Linked DNA regions of Homo sapiens: regions 1 and 2 are each linked to region 3. The links come from fine-mapping of genetic effects on gene expression. A gene starts in region 3. Each other region holds a variant in brackets. All regions are shown on one strand. Distances are between the middles of the regions.

The links. PIP is the estimated chance that this variant, and not a neighbour inherited with it, causes the effect. A credible set is the group of variants that fine-mapping cannot tell apart.
Region 1: its variant is the best candidate, but not a certain one, in a credible set for the expression of GOLGB1 in whole blood (INTERVAL, PIP 0.56).
Region 2: its variant is the best candidate, but not a certain one, in a credible set for the expression of GOLGB1 in rectum (CEDAR, PIP 0.73).

The regions. Positions count from the first base shown.
Region 1 is chr3:121,665,326-121,673,517 of GRCh38, reverse strand. GOLGB1 (golgin B1) reads left to right here. Exons shown (of 22, transcript NM_001366282.2): 18 at 4,163-4,306; 19 at 5,360-5,457; 20 at 5,908-6,042. Among named protein-coding and RNA genes, the nearest start is that of HCLS1, 8.5 kb to the right of the region's middle. The variant A/G (reference allele first, on the strand shown) is at 5,102.
Region 2 is chr3:121,642,878-121,651,069 of GRCh38, reverse strand. HCLS1 (hematopoietic cell-specific Lyn substrate 1) reads left to right here. Exons shown (of 14, transcript NM_005335.6): 4 at 3,622-3,751; 5 at 6,142-6,252; 6 at 8,089-8,143. Among named protein-coding and RNA genes, the nearest start is that of HCLS1, 14 kb to the left of the region's middle. The variant TCA/A (reference allele first, on the strand shown) is at 3,962.
Region 3 is chr3:121,745,874-121,754,065 of GRCh38, reverse strand. It overlaps GOLGB1 (golgin B1), which reads left to right and starts at 4,325. Exons shown (of 22, transcript NM_001366282.2): 1 at 4,325-4,434. RefSeq lists enhancers at 4,358-4,597, 4,618-4,667.

The DNA.
Region 1 (8,192 bases), 81 kb after region 3:
ACTACACAAAGCAATCTACAGATTAAATGCAATCCCTATCAAAATACCAATGACATTCTTCACAAAAATGGGAAAAAAAATTTAATATGTATGTAACCACAAAAACTCCTAACTAGCCAAAGCAATCTTGATTAAAAAGAGGAAAACTGGGTCGAGTGTGGTGGCTTATGCCTGTAATCCCAGCACTTTGGGAAGCCAAGATGAGTGGATCACCTGAGGTCAGGAGTTCGAGACCATCCTGGCCAACATGGTGAAACCCCGTCTCTACTAAAAATACAAAAATTAGCTGGGCGTGATGGCGGGGGCCTGTAATCCCAGCTACTTGGGAGACTGAGGCAGAGAATTGCTTGAACCCGGGAGGTGGAAGTTACAGTGAGCCGAGATCGCGCCACTGCACTCCAGCCTGGGTGACAGAGCGAGACTCCGTCTCAAAAAAAAAAAAAACCAAAAAACAAAAAAACACACAAAACAAAGCTGGAAGCATCACACTACCTGTTTAATGAGCATGATACTGGCATAAAAACAGACACACAGACCACCAATGAAACAATTAGAAACCCAGGTATAAAGCCAGGCATTTAGGGGCAACTTGTCTTTGACAAAGGCACCAAGAACATATGATGGAGAAAGGACAATCTCTCTAATAAATGGTGCTGGGAAAACTGGATATCTATATGCAGAAAAATAAAACTAGACTCCTATCTCTCATCATACAAAAATCAAATCAAAATGGATTAAAGACTTAATTCTAAGATCTGAAACTATGAAACTACTAGAGCAAAACTTGTGGAAATGCTTCAGGACATGGATCTAGCCAAGGCTTTTTTTGTGTAAGTCCTGAAGAGTACAGGCAACCAAGGCAAAAATAGACAAATGGGATTACAGCAAGTAAAAGGCTTCTGTTCAGCAAAGGAAGCAATCAACAGAGTGAAGAGACAATCCACAGAATGAGAGAAAACATTTGCAAACTACCCATCTAACAAGGGATTAATAACCAGAATATATAAGGGACTCAAACAATTAAATAGCAGGAAAACAAATAACTCAACTTAAAAGTGGGCAAAAGATCTGAATAGACGTTTCTCAAAAGAAGACATACAAATGGCCAACAGATATAAAAAAAAATACTCAGCATCCCTAAACATCAGAGAATTGTAAATCAAAGCTATAGTGAGATGTCATCTCACCTTTGCTGAAATAGCTTTTATCAAAAAGACAGGTAGTAACAGATTCTGGCAAGGATGCAGAGAAAGGGGGAACTCCCATACACTGTTAGCAATGTAAGTTAGTACAGCCACTGTGGAGAACAGTATGGAGGTATCTCAAAAAGCTAAAAATAGAACTACCATATGATCCAGCAACCCACGTATCTACAAGAAAGAAAATCAATATATCAAAAAGACATCTGTACTCCCATGTTTATTGGAGCACTGTTCATAAAAAACAAAACATAGAATCAATGTAAGTACCCGTCAACAGATGAATAGATTAAGAATGTGGTATATGTACACAAGGGAATATTATTCAGCTTTTAGAGGTATGAAATTCTGTCATTTGTGGCAACATAGATGGAACTGGAGGACATTATGTTAAGTGAAATAAGCCAAGAACAGAAAGACAAATATCACATTCTCACTCGTGTGGGAGCAAAAAAAAAAAAGTGAATCTCATGAAGATAGAGAGTGCATTGGTAGTTACTAAAGGCTGGGAAGGATAAAGGAGAGGAGGGAATGAAGAGAAGTTGATTAATGGGTGCAAATACATGGTTTGATAGAAGAAATAAGACCTAGTGTTAGGTAAATCAATAGGTGATTATAGTTTACCACAATCTATTGTATATTTCAAAATAGCTAGAAGAGAAGAATTTAAATGCTTCTAGCGTAAAGGAAAGACAAATACTTAAGGTGATGGATATTCCAGATACACTGATTTGATCTTTACAAATTATATGAATATATTACATTATAGCATGTATCCTGAAACTATGTATATCTATTATACATGAATTAAAAAATTTTTTAAGTATCTGGGAGGTTGTGTATAAGTTATATGCAAATACCCTGCCATTATATATAAGGAATTTGAGCGTCCTCGAATTTTGGTATACTGGGAGTTGGGGGTCCAGGGGTGGTTCTGAAACCAATACCCCATAGATAACAAGGGATGACTGCATTTCTACCAGCTGTTTGGATGTTAGTATGTAATGTAAGAATGTGCTAGAAACTTAAAAACATGAGATGGATGATTAGTGACATAATGTAGTCTAAATTGTTCCCTCCTATTTTGTTTTTACAGGTATAGATACAGTGAAATATAGTAGCTTATAAGCTAGAGGAGAGGTCAGCAAACTTTTCCTTCAGGCTCAGACAATATTTTAGGTTTGTTGACTGTATGGTCTTTGTTAACAACTACTCATCTTTGCAGTTGTAACACAAACGCAGCCATAGACAATATAGAATCAATTGGGCTGGTTGTGTTCCAGTAAAACCTTATTTATGATAAAAGGGCAGCAGGCCCTGGATCATAGTTTGCCAACCCCTAAACTAGAAGGATCTATGTTTTTGTTTTTGGTATGGTTTGGACTGTTCATTGTGGCCAGGAAAATTAACTTCCTCTTAGGTTAAGGGAAGAACATGTTGTGCCCTGTCTCAGAATCCAATAGTTGTCATTGTACCCAGTTAACTGTCTTCAAATTAGTATCACTTCCCAAATATTTATATCCTTTCCTAACTATTCCCACCTCCTCCCACACCCCCCCCCCCAAAAGAAAACCCTATGATTTTCTTAGCTTTCCTTGCTAGACTATCAGACTGGACACCATCAGATAGTAGATAGAGCTCTAGACTTGGAATCAAGAACCACACTTGAGTCCTGGTTTGACATCTACTAGCCATTTGTAAACAAGGACAGAAATCCTTTCTCTACCTCTCTCAAATAAGATGATACTGGTGAAAGTACTTTGTAAGCTAACATTGCTCTTCAGAATGACAAACACAAAAAACAACCCTACATCTGAAGAGCAATTTTCAGCTAACAGAGCACTTTTACAAGTATGTATGGATTATCTTGTTCTAATTTTCTATTTGCATCAAATGCCCTTCCTCACAGTTGTCTCTAGAAAACTGTCGTCTCTCCTCTAAAACATTGTTTGTTTCAACTTTTTTTCACAAAAACTTACAAAAAAGAATCATCAAGAAAAAATTGAACATGCAACTGGTATACTGGGTTCCTCTCATATAATGTACATGGTCCTAGAGTAGATAACTTGGAGAGACATCTCCATGGTTATTAATGTACCTGGAGGCTAATCACAGCTAAAACTTAAAACTTGACAGCCTGCAAGTGAGAGAATTATAGTTCCAGAGTACCAAATTCAAATCAATGGGTAGAAGCTACAATAGGTAAATTTTTCATTCAATATAAAAATGAATTTTCAGTTTTTTAAATGGTTTGGGTTGCTTTGTCAGGCAGTGGGCGCCCTGACACTGAACATGTTCAAGGGAAGACTGAACGATGACCTGTTAGTCATGCAGTAGAGGAGAGTCCTGCTTTAAGGGACTGAAATGTTTCTACCTGGGAGAATCTATGCTCTCAACAGTTTCTGACATATACATATACATGTTGGGATTTATTCTGTTTCTCCCTTCTACCACATATTATAATTTTTTATTCTATTCTCTCAGTAACTTATAACTCTTTATGGCATTGAGGAATCTGCCTAGGAATATTATTGCACAGATTTTGGGGTGACAGCTCTCTCCAGCCATATTGAGTTCTGGAGATTATAGTCATTTGTTAGTACCATGAACTTTGACCCTGAGGTACTGCCTTCTCCCTCTTATGTACCCAGAATAGCCTATGTAATTAGATTGCTTATGGACTTCTGCTTCATGGTTTTTCAGTTAATGTACTGGGCACCATTTAAAAAAACAAAACAGAACAAAACAAAAAAACCTTTCTGCTACTCCTCCAGAATTGTTTTCTGTCTTGGTCAAAAAAAAATTATGCTTTTTCCAACTTTGAAGGCACACAAAGTGCTATTGTTGCTGTTGCTGAAACAAAGGTCTTCCATAGGAAAATTAGATCCTGAAAACTCAGAACATTTCACCTCAGCACTGCTTACAGTACTGCAGGATGATGCTTATCCTCGCCTCTGTTTCAGTTCTCTCAGCTACTGGAAGAGAAAAACACCCTTTCCATTCAGCTCTGCGATACCAGTCAGAGTCTTCGTGAGAACCAGCAGCACTATGGTGACCTTTTAAATCACTGTGCAGTCTTGGAGAAGCAGGTTCAAGAGCTGCAGGCGGTGAGTAAAGAGAAGGTGAGAGACTGGGAGAAGTGTGATGAAATTTAGTGCAAGTGGTGAAGCACTACAGAGCAGTATGGAAGAAGTTAATGTAATTAGGGGTCAGGGAAGAAAGTGGGAGAGAAGAAAGAGTTAATTGAGATGGGAATAAGGTCTGAGAAAAATTACAGTGAAGCAATTAGAAGAAAAAAGATCAGTGAGATGGTGGGAGAGAAATCAAAACATGAGTAGGAAACAGTGATGACTGAGACATTTGGTACTCTGAAACAGAGAAAGTGTTGATTTTGCTTTAAGTTATAAGAAAATTGTAGGAAACTTTGGATCTGAGAACAAAACAGGCAGCACTGTTGACAGCCAGGGAGAGGAGTACAGCATTGAAGTTGGAGGAGACTGAGAATTAGTATGGAGACGTATAGGATACGGAGGAGGAAAAGGGGGTTGGGAGGGGCTGGACAAGCAAGGGAAGGATCAAAGTGGCTTCTGGAAAAGCCATAAGCATCCACAGCAGACTTAACTTTTTTTTTTTTTTTTTTTTTTTTGAGACGGAGTCTCGCTCTGTCGCCCAGGCTGGAATGCAGTAGCACGATCTCGGCTCACTGCAACCTCCACCTCCTGGGTTCAAGCAATTCTCTGCCTCAGCCTCCCGAGTTGCTGGGATTACAGGCGCCTGCCACCACACCCGGCTAATTTTTTGTATTTTTAGTGGAGACAGGGTTTCACCATCTTGGCCAGGCTGGTCTTGAACTCCTGATCTTGTGATCCACCCACCTCGGCCTCCCAAAGTGCTGGGATTAC[A/G]GGCTTGAGCCACGGCGCCCGGCCCAGACTTAACTTTTAAGAGGAGAAATTCAAGAATGAGAATCTGGGAGAAAAATCTAATCAAGACAAGAGTTTTATGTAGGTGAGTAATCTGCTAGAGCAGAAGCTTCTCACTTCTAAATTTGGACTTGAGAATTATAAGCGGGGATAGTCCTCTGTAAACGAGCTCTCATTTTGCTCAAATACACTTTCTTAAGAGCTTTCATCACTGAATTACTAAGCTTATTCTTCTTCCAGGGGCCACTAAATATAGATGTTGCTCCAGGAGCTCCCCAGGAAAAGAATGGAGTTCACAGAAAGAGTGACCCTGAGGAACTAAGGGAACCGCAGCAAAGGTAGGGGAGTGGCTCTCTAAACCCTGGAGCATACACCAGAGTCCAGAAATTGGGCAGTAATCTAGATTTAACTGGAGTCCTTTATATGGATTTAATATGTCTTGTTATCTTATTAGCCTCACAGAAGTGATGTGAGGATCAAATAGTAACAATAATAACTAACATTTGTGTGTGAAAAGTTTGTAAAACAAAAAGAGCAACACCAACACACACACACCACTAACAACTACTCTATGATAGTAAAATGAAAGATAATCAGTTCCTGAAATTTCTTTAGGTATTTTCTGCAGCTTCATTTAATCCCTCTACAGCTTTGCTTTTAAAATATTGTGTTTAGACAAGCTTCTATGGATTTTCTTGCTTTACAACCTTATGAAGACTTTGAATCCCTTGTATTAGCAACTGTTTTCTGCATCTGATGATGCTTTTTGTTTTCCTCTCATCCTAAAGCTTTTCTGAAGCTCAGCAGCAGCTATGCAACACCAGACAGGAAGTGAATGAATTAAGGAAGCTGCTGGAAGAAGAACGAGACCAAAGAGTGGCTGCTGAGAATGCTCTCTCTGTGGCCGAGGAGCAGATCAGACGGTAAAGGCTGAAGGAGATAGCCTCTGTTCCCTTCCGATCCTTTCTGATCAAACTCATGTACATTTCCTGCCAGACTTAGGATTTCTTAAGATCTTTTTCTCATCTTGAGGTAGTTGCTGCAATGAGTTTACCAACATTGTGGTCACCCAAGAGAACACTGTACTTTTGGAGTATAAGAGAGTCAGTGTTTTCTAAAACAGTTGTTCTTAGAGAATAATAATGATATCTACCATTACTGAAAGATATTTTATTTCACCCTAACCATAACTATATGAGGTAGGTGTTGGGTTCTCTAGAGGACCAAATAAGTGACAACCTCATTTTCTACCTGAGATCTGAATCCATGGAAATCTTTTTTAAAAGATTAAAAGATTGAGAGATTAAAAGACTGCTTTATAAATGATGTTAAAAGAATGTAGCTTTTTATTTGTTGGCAAATGCACTTCCTAACCCTGAACTTCCCCTCCCAGTCACAGACAATGTTGGGCCAAGGTAGACCTCCTTCACAGAAAATCCTGCTCTTGCCAAACAAGAGTATTGGAATAACAGAGTGAACTGTGCTTCCTATGAGCAGTTTGCTCCAAGTGTAATTTGGAAGGGCAGAGCTACACATCCCTAGTTCCTTATTCTCATCAAAAGAATCACTATGCATGAGAGGATAGAGAGTTGCTACAAGTATTTTGCTGCTGGAAGTCCCTTTCCACGGAAAATATCGTTAAAAGCAGGCACTTTTATTATATTTTGGGAGAAAGCCACCTATGTATATGATCACTTTCCTCAGAGAATGACATTTCTGATATTAATGCTTTCTTGTAAAGTTTATGTGGCAGAGGTGACAGCCCCATTGAGCAGGTCTTACTTGAGATACCTTTCTTTCCAATCCAACATATTCACAACTTCTTAATTTTCATCACCTATTCAGGCCTTGATATGCAGCTTTGAGGGTGGGCCAGCTTTGCTTAATGCCTTGTGTGGTGTCTTGCCATCTCTGCCGAGCATTTTCAGGCCTGTGCCCTCATGACTGTTTCTCTTCTACTTGCTATTGAATTGTTTAGACCGGTGAAACCTGGCCAATGGGGAGGTTGATCTCCCTCTTGTGTAACTAACCTGTCCCAAACCAACTGAGACTGCATGTGTGGGATGATGACTCTTGAGCCTGTGGGCAAGCCGTATTAATTCAAGCCACAATTCCCTCTTTAGCTCTGATGCAGAATGGAAGTTGGGGTAGCTAATTAAGGGCTGCCTGCCTAGTCCAGGTACTGCCATTGTAATGTTAGAATCTCACATGTACTCTAAAGAGCAGGTGGAACTCAGTGGCCCTCCAGTTTAAAGGCAGCCAGTACCATCTTCCTCATCAATACCTACAGACTTCTCATCCTTCCTCAGCATAGCCTACATTGACAGACTGACCTCCATAGTAACAGACCATGCTGTTCCAGATCAAAGCTGCTTCTGAAAAGCTTATCACATGGAGGAATAGACACAGAAGGTGTATTTTTTAGTCAGCCTGGCTCTCAGGAGGGAAGCAGGAAAGAAGGAGCTAGGCTGTGCATGCTCAGTTCTCTTTCTAGACTCACAAATTGGATTAAGGTGTTTCTTCTCTCCCGGGGAAAAGAATGTGTCCTGCAGAGAGCCCAAGAATATTAAACTAATAGATATCCTTTCAGAAGGAGAAAACACAAAGAGTAGAGGCAAGAGTTTCATCCTCTCTTCCCTATTGAAAAAGTTCATCCCTATAGGCAAATGCTTGATCAAACGTGCTGTGTTACATGCAGCTCCTTTGTTTGTTTGACATAACCATTGAGTGAGTAATGGCAGCTTCTTCATTAAATGGAGAAGTTCCAGTATTAAATAAGCAAATCAGCAAAAACTGAGCCAGAAGGCAGTGGAGACTGCCAATTCAATTTAATTTTTTTTAGTTCAATTTAATTTTTAAAACCCCACAGAAATCTTCTTTGGATGCTTTTGCCTATTAGCCTTTAATAAAAGAAAAAAATGTAATGAGTTTCTCCAAGTCAGGTGTGGTGTGGTGGAAAAAAGAACGTGAGGCTTGAAAGACAAAGTTGGGTATTGAATTCTGGCTCTGCCGCTTACTGGCTGTGCCGCCATGGGCAAGTAATTTAACCTCTGTAAGCCTTAGCACTTTGAAG
Region 2 (8,192 bases), 100 kb after region 3:
TCTGCCTCCTGGGTTCAAGCGATTCTGCTGCTTCAGCCTCCTGAGTAGCTGGGACTCAGGCGCCCACCACCAAGCCCAGCTAATTTTTGTATTTTTGGTAGAGACGGGGTTTCACCATAGTGGCTAGGCTGGTCTTGAGCTCCTGACCTTGTGATCCACCCGCCTTGACCTCCCAAAGTGCTGAGATTACAGGCGTGAGCCACCACACCTGGCCACTTTTTCATTTTATTAATGGCATCTTTTTAAGAGCAAAAGATCTTAATCCTGATGATGTCTAATTTATTGAAAAAAAATTTATGGGGCTAATGCTTTATGTGTCTAAGAAATATTTACCTACCCCAAAGTTGTGAAGACTTTCTTTGATGTTTTGTCCTAAAGGACTGACAGTTTTAGCTTTTACATTTAAGTCTATGACCCATTTCAAGTAGACTTTTCTGTGCAGTGTGAGGTCAAGATTGAGGTTCATTTTTCTCCATGTGATTATTTAGTTGTTCAACAATATTAAAAGAGTATTCTGTTCCCATTGACTTACCTGGCATCTTTGACCACATACATGTGGGTCTATTTCTGGACTCTATTCTGTTCTGTTGATCTATTTTCTACCCTGACAGCATACCATACTGCACTGATTATTGTAGCTTTATAAGTCAAGAAATTATGTAGTCCTCAACTTTGCTCTCCTTAAAAAAAAAAAAAGAAACAAAAGATTTTACTATTCCAGGACTTTACATTTTCACATAAATTTTATAATTCACTAGTCAATTCCTACAAGAATGCCTGTTCAGATTTTGATTGGGATTGCATTGAATCTATAGATCATTTTAGGGAGAACTGACATCTTAATGATATTGAGTTTTCCAATCCATGAACATGGGATATCTCTCCATTTATTTAGATCTTCTTTAATATTTTCAGAAATATTTTTTAGTGTTTAGGTCTTGCACATACTTTGTTAAGTTTATCCTAAAATGTTTCATGTTATTTCATGTATTTATATTTAACTTCCAGTTTCCAAATGTTTATGGCCAGTATGTAAAAATACAATTGATTTTGATATAATGACCTTGTATCCTGTGACCTAGCCAAATGCACAATGCTTTAGTAGCTTTTTTTGTGTGAATTCTTTAGGATTTTCTACATACATGATCAGGTCATCTGTGAATAAAAACCTTATATTCTGAGTCACTCACATTTGTGCTTTTAGTTTTGTAATAAAAAACAAACACAGATTGAGGAATGAGTCATCTTTGAGGTGCTACATTTTGCTTGGTTCACATAAACTGCATTGCTTTATCAATACAAAGTCTTTTAAAACTTAAATTGGATATCTGAGAGTTAATATGTCAAAAGTTTCTTAGGCACAACACAGCATATTGAATTGGAATTTTTTGTTTTCCTCTCTATCTCTTCTAGCTGTCCTCTATCTCCATACATAAAACATTTTTGTGTCCTCAGAGCCTAACAGTACCTCACACTTAAAAGTTGTTTAGTTAATAGTTATAAAATGAAGGAATGATGTGATTAAGACCTGTTTAGGCCAGGCGTGGTGGCTCACGCCTGTAATCCCAGCACTTTGGGAGGCCAAGGCAAGAGGATCACTTGAGGTCAGGAGTTTGAGACCAGCCTGGCCAACATGGTGAAACCCTGTCTCTACTAAAAATACAAAATCTAGCGGGGCATGACATGCATGCCTGTAATCCCAGCTACTCTGGAGGCTGAGGCAAGAGAATCACTTGAACCCGGGAGGCGGAGATTACAGTGAGCTGAGATCATACCACTGCACTCCAGCCTGGGCGACAGAGCAAGATTCTGTCTCAATAATAATAATAATAATAAAGACCTGTTTAGAATGACTTCCACTATAACCTAAAGAAGTCTGTTTTCTTTGGGCCTCAACAATTTCATTCAAATTATATCATTGGTATGATCCCCTGACTAGTTTTTCTGTTATCCTTTAGATGAATATTTCTGAGTATCATTTTCTAATCCCTTTTAAAAACTTGTTTTAACTATAATATAGTTATAACCCATTTAACAATTATTATATTCATTAAAAAATTGCAGATTTTTTCCATTTGAAAGTAAATTTTGGCCCCATTTTCTTGATCTTTCATCTGAATACTTCAGTTGGAAGATATTGGGCAGGCATTTACATGTCCTTGGTACTAGTAGCTTATGACACAGTGTTGGTGTTGAACTGACAACACAAGATCTCTGCTTTCAACGCTGCCAGAGAGTTTAGAGGAGGCATGGGAACAGGGGGTTCTTCCAGCACTTGGCTTAATTTCATCTGGTTCATAGCCAGCTTTCTAAAATTAACTGCGGCTAAAGCTGAGAAGGCTTTTTAAAAAGACCTTTGGTAGAATTATCCACTAAAGGCCACCAGATGGATCTATTCTTCCTTAAAAGAAGACAATTTCTGCTGTGAGACAGCCATTCTACGTATAACCAATGTGTCTGGTTGTCCTGCGCTGGTAAAGTCCCAGCTCACCATCTAACATCACTATCTTAATACCCTAAACCCTCATTGCTTGCTGCAGAAAGTCAAATTTCTTATTTAGGGTTCTCTTGCCCAAATGTTTCCAAGAATCCCCGGATCCTTATATGTGTCCAAATAACAGATCTGATTGTCACGTGGGGCTGAGCTATCACTTCATATCCTCAAGCCAAAGAGGTTGGCCAAGATGGCTTTCTGCCCTCTTAATTGTTGCAGTCACCTTCATGGTAAAGATGGAAGTGGGTGTGAAGTAAGAAAGATAATGCCTTTTTTGGTGGTACTTTCTCTTAGGGATAGAGGTGTCCCTTCAAATCAAGATAATTTGAGGCTTAAAGTGTTATAGCAATAACTGTGAGTGGATTTTCTTAGTTAGTTTTCATTAGTCCTTAGTTTTCTCAGGTATTATCAGCCTGGGGGGAAGGGGCAGAAGATCTTAATTCATGACCAAAAAGCATAAAAAATACCACTAATGTTTACATAAATTTCCCCAGTTCTGTGTTTTTATAAGCATTATATTTAATGACTTCCTAGTACACTAGTGAAAGGTAGTATTTCAATTTATTTAACTATTATCCAACCATTGGTCATATAGATTGTTTCTTAGTTATTGCTATTATATACGATGCTTCAATGAGTATCATTTAGACATTAAGGACATTAAGCTTTGCCATATTTAAAATCATTTCCCTGGTGTAGACTGCTAAAACTAGAATGTGTAGGTCCAATGGTATGTGAATATTTTTCTGCTTTTTGAGACACATCCTCTAATTGATAGAAAGCAGATCCATTCAGAAAAGAAAATAACTTTCCAGTTATCAGAATATAGGTACCATTGTCCTCTAATATTTAAGAACATGAAAAATGGGACTAAAGATCAGAAGGTTATTTTAGTGAGCAAATAACAGACTAGAGGAAATATTATTGGCCTATGGAGAGTTTAAATCAGGCTATGGTATGCAGGCCAGACTGATCTTTTACTTCCAGACCCATCACTAGTATATTTTGGGGGCCCAGGTTATTACTGAAAGTAAACAGGACAGACTTCAAGGCTTCCATTTTTCTGGGAAGATGGGTTTCTTGATCTCCCTAGGATAGATGAGCCTTGGTCATGTGGTTTCTTCCAGCATCCACCAGCTGAGGAACAAAGTATCAGAGGAGCATGATGTTCTCAGGAAGAAAGAGATGGAGTCAGGGCCCAAAGCATCCCATGGCTATGGAGGTCGGTTTGGAGTAGAAAGAGACCGAATGGACAAGGTAAGTTGAAAGGGAAAGATTTGCTTTAAAAAAATACAAGCCGGGTGCGGTGGCTCACGCCTGTAATCCCAGCACTTTGGAAGGCCAAGGTGGGTGGATCATGAGGTTAGGAGATCGAGACCATCCTGGCTAACACGGTGAAACCCCATCTCTACTAAAAATACAAAAAATTAGCCGTGCGTCGTGGTGGGTGCCTGTAGTCCCAGCTAC[TCA/A]GGAGGCTGAGGCAGGAGAATGGCGTGAACCTGGGAGGCAGAGCTTGCAGTGAGCCGAGATCATGCCACTGCACTCCAGCCTGGGAGACAGAGCGAGACTCTGTCTCAAAAAAAAAAAAAATAAATAAAATAAATAAATAATACATTAAAAAATTGATATATATACTTATATATTTTGTAAATATGTATAATTATATACTTATATATAATTATATACCTCTATAATAAGAGCCAACTATATATAAGTATATATAATTGACTCTATAATAAATAATTGGCTCTATAATAATTGGCTATAAAATAATTGGCTCTATAAGAGCCAATTATATGTAAGTATATAATTATATAAGTATATATTTATTATATATACTTATATATTTTATATATGTTATAAATATAATATAATGTATATTATATTTTATATATTATATATAAGTGTATATATATTATAAGTATATATAATATAATATATACTTATAATATATAATATATAATAAGTATATATATTAATATATATTATATATATTAATATATGTAATAAATATATATTAATATATATAATATATACTTATATACTTATATATAACAGATACTATATATAAGTATATATAATATATAATATATCTATATTATATATTATATATCATATATAATATATAATCTACATTATTAATACATTATATTACATATTATTACTATGTAATATATTACATAGTAATATATTACATAGTAATAATATGTAATATAATGTAATATATTATATACTATAATTAATATATAATATATATTATATTATATAAGTATATAAAATATAATACATAAAATATAATATATATTATATATTTTTATTTATAAATATATATAAAATATATATAAATATATAAAATATATAAAAATATAAATAATATATTTAATATTATATTATTATATATTAATTATAAGATATATTATATATATACTTATATATAGTATCTGTTATATATAAGTATATATTATATATAAGTATATAATTAATATATTATATATTAATACAAGTATATAATTAATATATTATATATTAATACATTATATATTATATACTTATATAATTATTTATAAATATATTTATAAATATATATTATTAATATATGTTACATAATTATAAGTAAATGTAAATATATAAATTTATATTATGTATATTTTAATATATTATAATTATATGATATAACATATTTATATTATAAATATATAGTTTATTCATAAATATATAGTATATAATATTTAAGTATATTTAAAAATTTTGCTAAAACACCCAGATACTTTTGTTCTAGATCAAAATATATATTTTTTGACTCATTCATTGGTTCATGAGTTAAAACTCATTCAAAAGTACAGTAGTCATTTGGTCTAAAATATAATGTCCACATATTATTTGTATCAAATTTTTCTGATCTCAACACATAAGATATACATGGCAGAAAATAAGAACCAAGATATTAGAACTGCTGGCCTGTTGTAGCCCCAACCACATTGTAACTCCTAGACCAAGAAGACAGGGAGCACAAGTGGAGAAGGAAAAAATATGTTTTAAAATTATTTGCTGCATTTAAATGTTTATGTATTATGTCTATGTTGCAACTTCTCTTTATTATTTTATTTACTGTGTATTTAGTGATTTTTTTTGTATACATGTCCTACATTACATGGTGTATAAAGCTCAGAGTTCACTTCTGAACTTTGATGGCCATACAGGAGCAAAGATCTAGAACAAAATCATTGGCTCTCCTAGTGAAATATTCCATCCCGGCTATGGCGTCCGGTCAGTCCCCTTGGTCTCTCCTCCACACTACCCCACACTACACTCTGTTCTGCTGCACAATGCTCTTGTTTCAGCTCTTTTTGTTTCTGGTTTAAACACTGCTCTGTCTACCTTGTCTCTATCCCCTGGTTCCCAGCCCATCCTATGGGAGTGTTCAGAATGAAGGATTCCTAATGGTATTAGAGAAGAACAGGGATGAGCAGGTCTCCAGAAAAAGTCATCTTGCTCTCCCATCGCGTATTCCTTGGCACCACTGTCAGAGGCTATAGATCTGACCCAGAATGGAATTTCTTACATGCCTACATCCCACTCCATATCTGTATTTATTTTTTTAAGGTCATTTTTATCTTTTCACTCACTCCATCCTTGATTTTTCTCAGAGTGCAGTGGGCCATGAGTATGTTGCCGAGGTGGAGAAGCACTCTTCTCAGACGGATGCTGCCAAAGGCTTTGGGGGCAAGTACGGAGTTGAGAGGGACAGGGCAGACAAGGTAAGTGACCACTCTCTCTCCCAACCACCCACCTCCAGTCCTGTGAAAATTGCCCACGATCACCCCTGGATGGAGGCACATGCTTCTTTGTTGAAAGACAGGACAGTGGATGCTGTGAGGACCTGACACCGTCACAGGGATACCTCCCTCAGCAAGTTCCTTGGTGCCAATGTTGGAAGCCACATGCTGAGCTGAAAGACAGTGATTCAAATAGGAGAAGACTCTCAAACTGTGTGTTTGAATGAATAATTCCTCAAGCCACTGGTTTTTATTATACTCATATGCATGAAGATAGAACAGAGAATCATCTAAGCTCTTCTTTTGGCTTAACATCAAAACCTTATAAATACTCATGCCGTTTAGGAAAACAGATTCATCAGTTTAAATATTATTGCCATAGCAGCAGATAATCAAGTTAAACAACTAATTAGGGTTACTATTTACAGAATTTAGCATCAATCTATGAAGTCCAGATATCTTTAAAGACTCCTTTGTACAAAACAAAACAAAATGTTGTTTTAAAGAGAAAAAAAAGTACCGTATGATTACAGCATCATATCGTTGACAGGAGAGTAAGATTGATAACTCATCGATGTTTTTAGTTCCACGCCTTATTAGGTCGGATTCTTTGAACTCATTTTTTATGGTGCAGAATGGTGTCTCCTGCCCTGCAGCTGCACACAGAGAGAGGACAGCTCCTTCACAGTTAGCTGAGATTTTTTCTTTGTTTTTACCAACAGTTGTTAATTAGGTGGACATGCATCCTTAAAGCTAAGGATTGGAAGCTAAGGCAGCTAAGTTCTAGAAAATTAATTGTTTGCATCATGGGGGGTAAAACCATGAAAAACAAAATCAGGAAAGTTTAAAACATACTGCAAAGCTAAGGGAAGATGTAGAAGGCAATAGTGAAATATGGAGCATGCAGTGTTCTAGAATCAGGATGGAATTCCCTGTTCCATCTTGGCACCACTCTTGCCTGCCTTTGCTTAATCACCGATTCTTACATCTTTTGCTCACAAGCCACAAATGGAATCACCCAGTCAGTGTGTCATGTAAATCAAGAAACAATACATGTTAATTAGTTCTTAATATGCAAAAACCCAGACTTGCTTAGATACCCATAGTTCCTGAGCCAGATGGAGAACAAAGCTCCAAAACTCTGCGGTAATGTTGGGTATCTGGGCAACATATCCAGTCCCAGAGCCAGCTAGGATCCAGACTCTCCTGGTTGCAGTTATCCCACCAAAATCCACATATTTGTGTTTCCATTATTGAGTAATGAAAGAGAAGAGGCACAGCATTATCAACTGGGAATAGGGTAATGTCTCTTCATGAGCAGAGTGCTTTATACTTTACAAGGCACTTTTCTAGGTATCACATTTCACTTTTGTGAGGATTCGTTAGGAAGAAAAGCGCTAAGTTAGTGAATGAAACTAAGTAGACACTTTACCTTGTCCCATTTAGTTCTCATGACATCCCAGATGAAGAGGGATCATTTCTCTCATTTTACAGTCGAGGTAGATAAGGCAGGCATGCCTCTCCTGATTTTATATTGAAAGAGACTGGGGCTTAGTAATATAAAGGAACGTGCTTAAACTTCAACAACTATAAATAGGGGATGTAGGGTTTGAACCTAAAACTGTCTGTGTCCAGGGCCTATGTTCATTGCTCTGTAGTATCCTGTGTCCATACCAGCCTGTTTCTACATTAAACACCTATACTCAGCCTGAAGCCCCTACAAACTACCTCTGGGGCTGGCTGGGAGTAAGGGGAGGTTAGGAAGAGGAAAACCTGTCAGCTCTGACTCTAACCAATTCTGTCTCCTCTTCTCTGTAGTCAGCAGTCGGCTTTGATTATAAAGGAGAAGTGGAGAAGCACACATCTCAGAAAGGCAAGGACACTGTACTTCACTCAGCCTCAGCAATCTGACCGGCAGGCTC
Region 3 (8,192 bases):
GACTCTTTTCTCCATTGAATTGCCTTTGCTCCATTCTCAAAGATCAGTTGTCTACATTTATGTGGATCTATTTTGGGGCTGTCCATTCTGTTCCATTGGTCTATTTGTCTATTCTTTAGCCAATACCATGCTGTCTTGTTTACTGTAGCTGTGTAGTAAGTCTTGAAGTTGGGTAACGTCAGTCCTCCAACTTTGTTCTTCTTGAATAGTCTGTGGATTATTCTGGGTCTTTTACTTTTTCATATAAAATTCAGAATTAATTTGTTGATATCCACAAAATAATGTGCTAAGATTTTGATTGAGATCTTATTGAATCTACAGATAAAGTTGGGAAGAATTGACATCGTAACAATACTGATGCTTTCTGGGAATATGGAATATTTCTCAATTTATTTAGATTTTAATTTTTTTAATCAGAGGTTTGCTAGTTTCCTTCACATAGAGCCTGTACATATTTTGTTAGATTTATGCCTAAGTATTTATTTCGTCTTTTTTTTTTGAGGCTAATGTAAATGGTATTGTGTTTTTAATTTCAAATTCCAATTGTTCTTTGCTGAGGAAAGCAATTGACCTTTTACCCTGTAGCCTCGTTAAAATTGCTTATTAATTCCAGGAGGTTTTTGTTTATTCTTAGATATTTTTTACATAAAAAATCATGCCATCTACAAAGACAGTTTTATTTATTACTTGCTAGTATGAATATCTTTTATTTCCCTTTATTGTCTTACATTAGGCAGGAGGTTTAGTATAATGTCACCTAGGAGTAGTGACAGGGGACATCCTTACCTTGTTCCTGATCTTAGAGGGAAAGCATCCAGTTTCTCACCATTAAGAATCTGCAATATTTTTCTATCAAGTTGAGTAAATATCCTTCGATTCCTAGTTTTCTGAGTTTTTTTTTTTAATCATGAATGGGTGTTGATTTTTCTTCTTCCCCCACCTTCCCTCTTCTTCTTTCCCCACCTTCTTTCCTCAGCTTCTTTTCCCTATCCCCACCTTCCCTCTCTTCTTCCCCCACCTTCCCTCTTCTTCTTCCCCTGCCATCCCTCTTCTTCTTTCCCCTTTCCCTACCATCCCTCTTCTTTCCCCTTTCCCCACCATCCCTCTTTTTCTTTCCCCACCTTCCGTCTTCCTTTCCCCTTTCTTTCCTCTCCTTCCTTCTTCTTTTTCCCCCCTCATCTCCCTTCCTCTTTCCCCACCATCCCTCTTCTTCTTTCCCCACCTTCCCTCTTCTTGTGAAAATATTTTTCTTCATTGGTTGATGTGATCATGTGATTGTATATTTTTGCATATAATTGATATGTCTCAAAGTTATATTTTTCAAGACAATTTCTTATTTCTCCAAGATTTTAAGATTTATTCATATAGAATTCTATGTTGGATATTTTATTTAACAAATATTTATTGAGTATATACTATGCTGAAGATACGTTAGGTATGGAAGATACATTAATAAATAAGGCTGCATGAAAGTTTTGGAATAAGTTTGCATTTGGTATAGAGGAAGGTAAGATGATGATGAGGAAAGAACTGAAAAAGGGGAGAGGGAATTGGGCAACAGTAAATCACAGAGAATGTGACATTTCTTGTCTTTCAACTTTTCCTCCCTGTACTTTCAATTAGGGAAATGATCACTCTCTAAGGGACACCTGAATGACTCCACACTTCTGTGATTTCTGCAGTCTCTAACTGCTCTGGAGCTTAGAGTCATATCCAAACCCCTTAGCATAAAATGGCACAATTTTATGACCTACTCTTTGCCTAACCATTCAGTCATATCACTTATGTCAAATTGCCCAAATGGTCCATGCACATGCTGCTCCATCTACCTCCACTATTCTGTACCCTCTTTTTTGCTGGGGCAACCCCTAATTATCTTTTATTATCTTGATCACCCTCTCAGAGCCTAAATTGCTTCCATTAAGTTGCATTCTAAATTATTTCCAGTCCTTCAGTGAACTTAGAAATAATATGTTTTGCTCTTTAACTTCTCCACCTCATTTTCTTCCTTCACACCCCTAGTGTTCACTATAATTCTCACCATACTGTGCTCACCCAATAATAGAAGGTAGAGCTATAAGAAGACCTACTAGACAGAAAAAATTCTAATCTCGTCTCCCATAAGAAACTTTCATTCTGTTAAAACTGAAAGGTAAATTCTAAGGTCGAATGTGGAAATAAGTATGTAGAAAGGTAAATTTTGTGTAAGGGAGTACAATAGGACTCTCAGTGATGGCTTCTATTTTCTCTAAGATAGAAGCAAGTTCATCTGCTAGGAGTGTGAAGTGTAGACACGGGGTTGGGACTTAAAGAGGATGTTAAAGGTTTGAATAATTGTGGCAAATAGGAGAGGAAGCTGAAGACAAGAAGGATTTGGGAGTGTGCTGAAGATGGAGTTCAGCTGGAAACTGAATGTGCAGTGGTCAGGACATTGATGTCACTGATGACATTGTCCTGATGTCTCCTGCAGCATTTTGCTCCCCAAAGGTAGAAGTAGAGACCAATGGTTGGACTGATGCAGGTTTAGGACTTTGCTGGGTGGATACAATCAGGGATATAAGAATATGATGTATTCATTAAGTACTGCAGCATTCAAATTCTGTCTCTGCCCCTCACCATGTGACCTTGTGCAAATTATTTAACCTTCTGAAGTCTTATTGTCTCACATTTAAGATAAGGATAATCATATATACTTTATTAATTTAACAGATATTGAGTGCCCTCCTCTATACTTTTCTGGGACCTGGAGATAAAGCTGAGATCAAAATTACTACCTTCCTGGAGCTTATAATCTAATGAGAAGAGAGATACCAGATAAATGAAATATATAGTACTTTAGATGGCAAAATGCTTAGGGGAAAAAGAAGCAAAGAAGAAGTATATAGTGCATGCAGGAAATTGCAATTTTATTTATGTTTGTATTGATACATATTTGTACATATTTATGGGGTGTGGTAGTTTGATATATGCATACAATGTGTAATGATCAAATCAGGGTGTTTAGGATATCTATCACCTCAAACATTTATCATTTTTGTGTTTGGAACATTTCTAATCTCCTAGTTATTTTGAAATATATAACATATTGTTAACTATAGTCACCCTACTGTGCTATCAAACACTTGAACTTATTCCTTCTATCTACGTTTGTACCCATTAACCAATCTCTTCCCTCCCTCCCCCAACTCCACCTTCCCAGCCTCTGGTACTTATCTCTACTCCATGAGATCAACTTTTTAAGCTCCCACATGAGTGAGACCATGGGATATTTGTCTTTCTGTGCCAGACTTATTTCACTTAGAATAATGACCTCCAGTTCCGTAAGATGGGCAGCCAGGAAAGGCCTTACTTAGCTGATGTTTGAATTGTGAAGTTATGTAATCATTAAGATGAGTATACATACAATGGGCCAGCTGAGTGCACAGCAAGATTCAATAAATTCAAACTAACATTACTCTTATTGCCAAGAGAGTGCCTGAAATGACAGCTCATTGGAAACTGGCTACTTTCCTTCCCTTTCCTTAGGGGTTTAAGGAAAGCATGAGTGATTTCAGTCTTTTGCTGGAGCTCCTCACTGACACTCATTGCAGAGCCTGAGCCCTCAACTCTCAATCTTTGCTTAGGTCCTGGCTTAGGCTCCACTTTGTAAGAGGCACCTTCCTAGTATTCACTACTCTCTCTCTCACAATCATGTCCTTACAGACATTGCTGATCCTCTTTCATACTGACACCGGGTTCTAGTCCGAGTTCCATCACTAAGTCGCTGTTTGACTTTGGGCAAGTTACTTCTGTGGTTAATTATTTTTCATCAACAAAATCAAAAGGTGAAACTAGACGAACAACTAAGAGGCTCCAGTATTTTTTCAATCTAAGAGTCCCATATCCCCCACTCCCTTCTCACAGCTCATTCAACAATCCTAATGGCAGCGGGTGCCCGCAGTCTCAAGTCTCTGCCGAAGCCCAAGCCGCTGTCTCGGTCAGTCACAACCGACGAAGAGGAGGAATTGGAGGAAGCCAGCATAACCACTTCACACTGAGAACATCTGACCTTTCCCAGAACGCCCGCCCACTCGACACTTCCTGTCCCTCCCCAGATCTTGTTCCGGGGCACCTACTCGCGTCTAATCACTCCCCTCATTCACTCTTTAGGGTCCATTGGCTGTTTCTTTGAGGAAGCGGAGCATCTTCTGTCGTTGATTGGTTTCCGTCATTGTTGATAGGTTGGTAACAAACAAGGTGTGCCTGGTCTCCCTGGTAACGTCCTGCCGATAGTCCTGATTGGTCGGTGTCTTAATCCCATCTTCCGTCCCAACTGCTAGTGGCTGAGTCCCTGGCGGGGCGCGGCGGTGGAAGGTGTCGCGTACGGGCTTCCCGAGCTGACGTGGCTTGAATTGGGAGGGGGGCAGCTGGAGCCTCAGGCGGCAGCGCTTCTAGGTGAGTAGGGGACGCTACCCAACTCTTCCCTCTGCGAGTCCAATAACGGTCACCCCCGCCAGAGGGGCCGCGGGAGCTGCCCAAGCAGCTACACCGGAGTCCCCTCCTCGCCCCGCCTCTCCCGGATTCAGTCCTGGATCCGGCCCTTCACCCGCCTCCTTCACCTACCAGGCCTAGTTCTAGTAGCCCACAAGCCTCGGCCTCTCCGGTGGGCCTTCGGGGTCACCCTGCGCAGACTTGGACCACTTGCTCACGGTCTGTCCCCTCCCCGGTACGTTTCTCCTCTGGGAGCGACGGGGAAAAGCGCCTAGGTCAGTCCTGTCCGCACGGCCTTGTTCCTGGAGCGGCCTGCCTAAGTCGGCCTCCGTACGCAGCCGCTGACGTCGGAAAGAACCTGCTGGGCCCCTGTGCTCAGGCCCTAAACAAACTTGGTGTCCCGAAGGGGAGGCGCGACCAAAAGAAATCAAAGGTCTTTAGGGCGGAGATCACAGAATCATTGGAGATATTAATGCAAACGGAGGCCTGTCCAATAATCCTGCTAATGCTAATGGGTTACTGGAAAGATGAGAAGAGAGGAAAGATCCCAACGATCCCGTCAACACGAAAATCCCAGGAATCAGAGGTGGGCAGGCTGTTAGAGAAAAAGGAACCTCTAAGAGAGTTCTCGAGGAAAAATAACTTGGTTTGATGGTGTGGAGTATGTTTAATCTGCACAACCGGAATGTGAAAGGGAGGGTGAGTCCTTTGAGGAATGAGGAATATATTTGTCTGACTTATTTAAAGAGCTCCAGTTGGTCTATGGGGAGCGGACAGTTTGAGAGTGGGACAGGGATATTTACAATCATGGGTAAGTACTTTCACTTTTGGAGATAGTTGGAAGCTGTCTGAGCATTTAAAGGACCTTTTTACAGTTCTGTGCAAGATGCAAGCAAGTGGAGGGCTCTTTACATAAGGGCCAGAGGCCTTTCCAAAAGCGTGAATTGATAAGATTTAGATGGTCAGAATGGTTATGAAGGGGCAAACTCAGGAAATATCCTATTGGAAAAATGGCAGGATTTGGTTTTGGAATAGATGCAGGAAAAAGTTGAAGAGTACTCAAAAGTTGCAGGCATTGTACATTAACTGCTTCATAGCTTTTACTTCTCATCCCTTGACCACAGAATGACCATTTAATGTTTTTCTTTTCACTGCATCAATATTTTTTACTACCTCAGCAGCTTCCAAACCTTTTAATTGCACTCCCTATCAGTAAAACATTTTTGAGCATGCATCTCCCCAAATGTTGTGTGTTTAATTATTTATAGTGTATGACTACCACTGTAAATATGTTGTGTATAATATGAAATATGCAAAAGTATAAACGTAAAAGAATGAAGTTTTTAAAAAGCCTTGTCCACACCTTGGGACCTCCCAACCCAATTTGACAATCACGTAAAGATACTTCCTTGTTTTTCAAGAAGGTCGTTGGCATTTCTGGCATCCAGACTCTGGGATGCAGCCTTTCTTAAACATGATCTTTAGAAGATTTTTTTCAACCTTCTGCTTGAGTTTTATAGGCCCCCTTTCTTTTTCTCCCTTTGATTAATGGATTAATTAAAGGGATGTTGACTTTATCCTTGTTTATAAAATAAATCATTCATTAATTTCTCTAGGTTAATTACTATTAGGAATACCACTGATCATTACATACCAGTCTGTGGTTAGAAACCATTATGTAAAAGGAGACTAAGCTCTATATTGCTGTATTTTTAATTAAGCTATTTTAAAATCAGCTATATGCTTTTGATAAAAGGAAATTTAATACAGAAGGATACAATGTAAAAAAAGTCTTTTTCTTTTCTATCTACTGATCTACCCATCTCCATTCCCCACTTCCCAGAAGTAAGCACTGTAAATAATTTCTTGGTTATATTTAAGAAACTTTCTGATCATAATAAAGCACATGATAATATATACCCCCTTCTGTCTTTCCCACAAGTGGAATCCTAATACACATGCTTTTGCCATTTAGTACTGTATATTAGGCACTTTCAATATCCATGGGTATAAAACTACCTCATCCTTTCCATGGCTACACAGCAGTCCTTTGTAAAAATATAAAAATAGTATTTAGCCTGTCCCCATTGATGGACATTTAGATTTTCAGTCATTAGCCATCAAAACACTGCTGTAGTGTTTTGTTATATAACATCCATGTGTATATATGTATATATATACATATATATACGTATATATGTATATATATACGTATATAGACATATACGTATATATACGTATATACACATATATATACATATATACGTATATACACATATATACATATATACATATATACACATATATATACATATATACATATATACATATATATATACACACATGGATTTTTGTTTTGTTATGTAACATCCATACATAACATGTTTTGTTATGTAACATCCATATATATATATATATATATATATATATATATATATATATATAACATCCATGTATATATATCTTAGGGCCCTTGTGTGAACCTGTCTGTGGTATAAACAATATGGAATTATTTGGGGCCATACTAATATGAATCATTTTAGTTTACTTACTGCTTTAAAAAAAAGTACTTACCTAACTATTAACATAGTGCCTTTATCCCTTCATTCTGTTTTCAACCCGAGTAAAGAATATTGGATAATGAGATTATTCAGAAAATAAAATATTTTCTGTGTATCTTCACCCACCAAGAAGCTTTGTCGAACTATGTGACTGGGGAAATTACTTAACATCCCTCTGCCTTAGTTTACTCACCTTAAAACTGGGAATATTGACGGTACTCCCTCTTGCGGTTGTTTTAAGAATAAAGTGAGTTAGGCCGGGCGCAGTGGCTCATGCCTGTAATCCCAGCACTTTGGGAGGCCAAGGCGAGTGGATCACTTGGAGTCAGGAGTTTGAGACCAGCCTGGCCAACATGGTGAAACCCCTGTCTCTACTAAAAATACCAAAAATTAGCCAGTCGTGGCAGCGGGTACCAGTAATCCCAGCTACTGGGGAGGCTCAGGCAGGAGAATCGCTTGAACCCAGGAGGCAGAGATTGTAGTGAGATCGCGCCACTGCACTCCATCCTGGGCGACAATAGTGAAACTCCGTCTCAAAATAAATAACATTAAATAAATAAATAAATAAATAAATAAATAAAGTGAGTTAAATAACGAAAAGTAAGTTATGTGTAAAGATATTGGAGCAGTGTTTGGCAGGTCACGCTGTGTATGTATGTTATAGCTACCACTTACAAATTCATTTAATTAAAATAGTGGCTTCTGCATCATGAAAAATAGTTGTTCATTTTCTAATTGTAAAATTATGTCATAATATCGAATGTGTTATTTCCAGCTATACAGCACTACCCATTAGCCCCTCAACTTGGTTGAAAATCACTTTGAGATTTAAGGAATTAAGGACAGCTACTGAGGCTTAACTAAATAAGCATGAAATAAGTTTGAGGAGTCACCTCAACTGAAACCTAACCACCTTCTCTGTGTTTCTGTGGGAAAATGTGATTTAAATTCCAAAGTAGATGGCATATATGCATATATACACAGGCATGCACTCACTGTCTTCAGTTATTTTGCTTATTTTCCTGTGCATATTGTTCTGTTTTCGGTGGCTAGGGACATGCTTTATAATTCTTTTTATATTTTTATAGTTCCTAGCATAATGCTGAACACCAGGTGGTTGTTATAAGAATAATCATTGATAACAGTGAAGACTTGGAGAAA